Homo sapiens: one gene and its partner. The protein of the gene in region 2 interacts with the protein of the main gene of each other region in a pairwise test. Each region holds a gene or a part of one and is shown on either strand. Other genes may lie near its edges.

Evidence for each region. Proteins that work in one complex are often made in the same cells at the same time.
Region 1: the proteins of APCDD1 (region 2) and LRP5 interact in binary tests that used the Homo sapiens proteins (3 or more experiments, as listed by UniProt).

The regions. Positions count from the first base shown.
Region 1 is NC_000011.10:68,423,941-68,427,594, reverse strand, and holds part of LRP5 (low-density lipoprotein receptor-related protein 5 isoform 1 precursor), read right to left. Parts: intron 2,494-3,654; coding exon 2,303-2,493; intron 1,618-2,302; coding exon 1,408-1,617; intron 1-1,407. UniProt on the Homo sapiens protein: Acts as a coreceptor with members of the frizzled family of seven-transmembrane spanning receptors to transduce signal by Wnt proteins.
Region 2 is NC_000018.10:10,485,481-10,488,041, reverse strand, and holds part of APCDD1 (protein APCDD1 precursor), read right to left. Parts: coding exon 2,259-2,561; intron 453-2,258; coding exon 4-452; 3' UTR 1-3. UniProt on the Homo sapiens protein: Negative regulator of the Wnt signaling pathway. Inhibits Wnt signaling in a cell-autonomous manner and functions upstream of beta-catenin. May act via its interaction with Wnt and LRP proteins. May play a role in colorectal tumorigenesis.

The DNA of each region.
Region 1 (3,654 bases), on a different chromosome or scaffold from region 2:
AATTCTCCCACCTCAGCCTCCCCAGTAGCTGGGAATACAGGCGCCTGCCACCACACCCAGCTAATTTTTGTATTTTTAGTAGAGACGGGATTTCACTATGTTGGGCAGGCTGGTCTCGAACTCCCAACCTCAAGTGATCAGCCCACCTTGGTCTCCCAAAGTGCTGGGATTATAGGCATGAGCCACCAAGCCCAGCCTGGTCCCTTTTTGTTTGTATTTTTTGTAGGGATGGGTTCTCACCATGTTGCCCAGGCTGGTCTCAAGTAATCCTCAGATGGTTACCATGGAGGGGAGGAAGGACTGTGGTCCCAGCTGTGGAGGCCCCTCCCCCAAGCCCTGGGACACAGCAAGGCAGTGGCAGGCAGAATCCTAAATGACCCCGTAATTTCCCACCCCAGTCCCCAGCACGGCGTCATGACCTTATGTGGCAGAAGGGATTCTGCAGATGTGATTAAGGTTATTAATCAGCCGACTTGGAGTCTATCAAAGGGGAGGCTAACCTAATCTAAAGGTGGCTGAGCCGAATCACAGGGCCCTTTAGAAGCAAATCAGAGAGACTCAAGGTGTGGGAGGGACTGACGCAGGGAGCCCCCACTGCTGAGGCAGAGAGGGCCACGGGGCAAGGACCTGTGGTGGCCTCTAGGAGCTGAGAGTGGTCCCCGACCAATAACCAGAGAGAAAACAGAACCTCGATCCCACAACTGCTACCTGCTGAGTGAGCAAGGAAGCTAATTTCTCCACAGAGCCTCCGCTGAGGGCCCAGCGTTCCTGACACCTTGATTCTGGCCCCGTGAGACCCTGAGCAGAGAACCCAGGTGAGCCACGCTGTGCCTGGACTTTGCCTTACAGAACTGAGAGACAATCCGTGGGTGTTGTCAGGCCAGTGGCTCACACCTATAATCCTAGCACTTTGGGAGGCCACAGCAGGCAGATAGCTTGTGCCCAGGAGTTGCAGACCAGCCTGGGCAACATGGGGAAACCCCGTCTCTACAAAAAAAAATTAGCCAGGTGTGGTGGTGCCCACCTGTAGTCCCAGCTACCTGGGAGGCTGAGGCAAGGTGTTCACTTAATTAAGCCCAGAGGTCGAGGCTGCAGTGAACTGTGTTTGCACCAGGGCACCCCAGCCTGGGCAACAGAGCAAGATCCTGACTCAAAAAAAAAAAAAAAAAAAGAGTTGGTGTTGTCTTAAAACGCTGTTCGTGGTGATTTGTTCTGCGGCAAAAGAAAACAACCTCAGAGGCCTCGGGACATTCGGACATGTCGCTGAACCCCAGCGGGCAACAGTTGGCATCTGGCAGAGACCACCGCCTGGCTGAGGCCACACAGGATCTTGCACTGGCCTCCAGCCTCCTCCAGGGGTCGGGTTTAGAGGCCACCCTGCCCACCCCACTGCCAGCCCCCACGTACAGAACTCCTCCAGGCTGACTTCCTCCACTGCATGGATGCCAGTGAGGTGGGCGACACGGCCCTGGATGCGAGTCCGCTTGTCCCCGGTGGTCTTCTCCACACGCTCGATCATCTGCTGCTGGCGGTCGATCCAGTAGAGATGCTTGCCAAGGATGGTCAGGCCCAGAGGCTGCACGATGTTGGCGTCCTCCAGGGTCAGGCGGTTGGCCCCTGCAAGCAGCCCGTGGGCCCCCCTGAGCAGTGCTGACCTCCAGAACTTGCCCCACACTCAGCTTGGGAGGACAGAGGTTGACAGGACTGCCAGGGAGCCTGGGGGATTCCATGCTTTGGACAGGGGTGGGAGCTGCAGCAGAGTCCCTGGAAGCAGGCCGACCCAAGACAAGCCCTCGGAAAGCCCTGCTCCCACCTGGGCTGGGCTCGGGATGAAGGCCATCAGTTCCAACGGCGGGCCTCGGTCACTGGCCCCTGCAAGCATGGCCCCTCCCTTCACCCATCTACCTCATCATAAGAGGAAAAGCCATGGGGACCTGCGCCCCCTCTCTAAGCACCAACTCTCATTTCTCTCCAGCCCTCGCAGCCTAACACAGTCCAGAGCAGAGCAGCTTCTTGCGCAGGTGCTGGGGGCAGAGGCTAGGCTGCAGTCCTGCTCCATCTCCTGCTGTGGGGCCCCAAGCAGCTCGCTCACCCTCTCTGAGACTCATTTTCTGCCTCTGCCCTGTGGGGCTCACTCAGAACCCCAGCCTACAGCTGTCAGTGTGAGGACAAAACACGCTACACACAAAGCCCCTGGCGCGGCACTGGGCTCACGGCAGGTCTCGGACAATGTGGCAGCTGCTGCCATTACTGACAATGAAGGCCGGGTGTCTGCGGTTAGGGCAGGCCCCGGGGCGCGTACCTGACAGGTCACAGCTCTCAATGCGCTTCAGGTCCGCGTCCACCCAGAACAGCTTGCCCAGTGTGTTGTCCACCACCAGGGCCACAGGGCGGATGAGGCCGGTGGTGAAGAGGACCTCGCGCTCGGTGCCGTCCAGGGCTGCGCGTTCGATCTTGGCTGCCCGGTCCTGCATGTTGGTGAAGTACAGGTACCTGCGGGAGGGTGGCGGGTGAAGGACGGGTGTGGGGATGGCGTCTCCTCGGACAGCACGGAGCCCAGGGCACCCAGCTGGGCTGTGGAAAGCCCCTGCCTCTCAGGGCTGCCCGAGGCTGACAGGTCACATTCTATACTAGTTGAACAATGCTCTCCAAATTCCCGCTCACCCCAGAACCTCAGAATGTGAGCTTATTTGGAAGCAGGGTCTTTACAAATGTCATGAAGGATCAAGATACGACCACAATGGGTGAGGGTAGGCCCTAAATCCAACTGAAGTGTCCTTCAATGGTACAGAAGAGGCCACGCCATGTGCAGCCAGACAGAGAGACTGGAGTGACAGGACCACAAGTCAAGGGGTGCCTGGAGCCACCAGAAGCCCAAAGGTTCCCTCAGAGCCTTCAGAGGGCGCAGGGCCCTGCCCACACCTCGATCTCGGGCTTCAGCCCTCAGGAACTGTGAGAGAACAAGTGTCCATTACTCTCAGCCACCTGGCTTCTGGTAATTTCTGACAGCAGCCATGGGAAACAGGTGCAGGCCCCCCACAGCTGCTAAGGACCCCGGAGCCCTGGCTGTTGGGAGACCAGCTCGGCTGGCTCCTGCACAGCCGCCTTATAGACCCGGGGCTTCCGCCCACCGAGCCCCCCGTGTGCTGCAGAGGCCGCACCACTGTGGCCGTCACTCCTACCAATGAGGAAACTGAGTCTCCAAGAGGCTATGCCACCCGCCCAAGGTCACGTGGCCAGTAAGTGACAGAGTCAGGGCTCAATCTCTGGGCTCCCGGCCCAGGACCTGTGCTGGCTGTAGCTCCCGTCTTCATGCCAGCCCCCCAGCTATCTGAGGAAGGCCATCGCGCTCCTGTCCCCAAACGTTCCCGTGCTCAGTTTGGAGCCTGAGTTTCATGTCACATGGGTTTCGGTCTCCCTCTTTCCCTGGCTTTTCTCTCTGGAGACCTCAAGGTCCTGGGTGCCTTCCCACCAACCAGAAGCTCTGACGACCAACAGGTGGGAGCGTCGGGGGCCTCTGGGAGGAAGAAGCCCAGGAGCTCCCTGTGGTGGAACAGGAGCGAGTCAACAGGCAGCCCCCATGCCGTGGAAGGGATTTCTGCACAGGGTTCAAGTTTAACAAGGATGATACAAAACCTATCAACTGCAACTCCC
Region 2 (2,561 bases):
CTTCTATCTGCGGATGTTCCAATGCAGCAGAGGGACAAGGCAGGCAAGTGCAGCCAGCAGCAGGGACCAGGTGTGCCTCCCAGGGGCCCGGCCATACAGGCTGCTTCCACTGTCTTCTGCGAGGTCCTCTGCCCTCGGCGAAGAGGAGGCACACTGGACCAAGGGCATCTGGTAGGACGTGGCTCTCTTCTCTGGCCTGTCTGGGCTGGACCCGTCGCTGGGCCTCTGACCGTTGAACAGCAGATAGCGCCCCCGGGCATCCTGTTCCATTTTGAAGATCTCGTACTCCGTGTGAGGTAGTTTGATGCCCAGGGCCACGCAGCCATTGGTGTGGGTCACATCCTGCTGGATGCCCACCTGCCAGGAGCCCTCGGCCCCGCACTCATTCCCGTTGAAGACGTTGAGCAGTGAGGCTGTGGCCGCATCCATGGGGGTGACCTTCATGTGATTCACTGCAAAGGAGAAAGGAGAGTTCCATGACTCCAGGGAGTAGGCGTGGGATCCAGAAACCCACCCAGAAAACACTGGCCACACTCTAACTAGACAAGGCTTTCTTTTCCAAAAACAATCCCACCTACAGACCCACCCATCTGACAGCAGTAGTCATCAAAGCACTGTCAGGCGGAGAAGAGTTCAACCTGTTGATCTGGGTGGCAGTCACACCGATATGCTGCAGGTGTGGCCATGCAACACAGACCATCTGGTGTAGAAACACTGAGCCCAGAATACAGCTGGGAGTGCCTGCAGGCAACAAATAAAACTACAGCTCGGAGTGCTCCTAAGGAGTTTTATTTGGTGATGCTGACTCGTTGGGATTGAAAGAAAAATATTCAACAAAGGCTGGAATTTTGCTTTTATCAAAAGGTTTTCGGGTTTCTAAAAGTTTTGGTGTCAAACACCTATTCTGGTTGGCATTCTCACACATTCCTATGGGCCCATACATCAGGCATCTAAAATAAGTTAGGCTGCAAGCAAGAAAAATGTGAGTGAATAAATTAAATACAAATCCCAGCTTTTGTGGAGAATTGCTTCTGAAGGTCCCTCCAGGGGGCCACTTCCGTGTATAACACGATGAGCTTCAGGGTGGAGTCAAGTAAAGATTGCTTGCTTTCAATTAAGTTTCTCAAAGGGCCTGTATTCCTGGAGCAAACCTTGCTACCCAAAAGGAGGGCTAAAGTCTTCCAGGACTTTCTGGGTTAACAGAAACATTTTTATAGTAATGGGACTGAACCCTGGAACGCCATCCTGGAGGAGTCACCTGGGATCGAGGCTATCCCTCTTTATTTGGTATGATAGGGCTGACACCATTTTACAAAGATGCTCAAACTTAGGGGGAAAAAAAAAGCAACCTTTTAAAAATAGCAACCACAAGCCCTGCTTTGTTGCTAGCAGCCTGGTGCAGCTCCTTCCTCCCCTCCTCGTTTAGTGATAAGGACACAGCCTGAACCTTCCCACAGATGCTCCCACCTCCAAGCAGGTGACAACCTCTCAATTACACGACAAGCTCAGGGTTGGAAAGGACAGCTCTGAGCACCTGAGGTGTCACTAACACCTCTTTATTGCTCACTCAGGAAAGCACTGTGGCATGCAAGCAAACGCAGTGTTATTAGAGGGGCAGCATGGAATCTGCCAGAGTTGTGTATAAAGAACACAAAGTGCAGACTTGAGATTTCTTTTTTTGTTTTTTAGAGACAGGGTCTTTCTCTGTTGCCCAGGCTGGAGTACAGTGGCATGATCATATCTTACTGTAGCCTCAACTTCCTGGGCTCAAGCGATCCTCCTAGCTCAGCCTCCAGAACAGCTGGGACTACAGGCACATGCCACCACATCCAGCTAATTTATTTTATTTTTTTATAGAGTTAGGGCCTCACTATGTTGCCCAGGCTGGTTTCAAACTTCTGGCCTCATGAGATCCTCCTGCCTTGGTTTCCCAAAGTGTTGGGATTACAGGCATGAGCCTCCGCACCTGGCCAGAGATTTCATTCCCAGTAACATCCTCCCTGGCTGGCAACTTCCCACAGGCAGTGGCGTGGACTCCTCTCGCATTCAGGCCTGCAAGTGGAGGCTGTCCACCTGATCCATTTTGAGCAGGGAGAAACTCAGAGGGCGTTGGGAAGGACTGAGGCAGAAATGACTCCCCAATTTCTTTCCTGGGAACTCAGGCAGAAAAGAGGTCCTTTCCCTCAGCTCTGCCTCCACAAAAATGTCACAGGGCTGTTTATTGGCTGTGATACTGGGACTTGAGATGGGAATCCTACCTTTGAACACGAACTCGGTGCCTCCCATGACCCTGGACGAGAGGACGCCGCGGCTGTAGCGGCCCCGGGCGTAGATGGAGAAGGTGGGGTGCTTGCACACCGGGTCTGAGTAGTGGTAGTAGTGGCCCTCCCAGGTGTTGTTGTTGTCATGGAAGATGAAGTGGCGGGTGAGGAAGAGGACTTCGGGGCGCACCTCACAGCGCTGGCTCACCCACTCCCCGTGCAGGCCGATGGTCAGGTCTGCCTTTGGGGGCAGGATGGGAGGGTGGTGCTCGTCTGACCGATAGATGATCCGACAGGCGA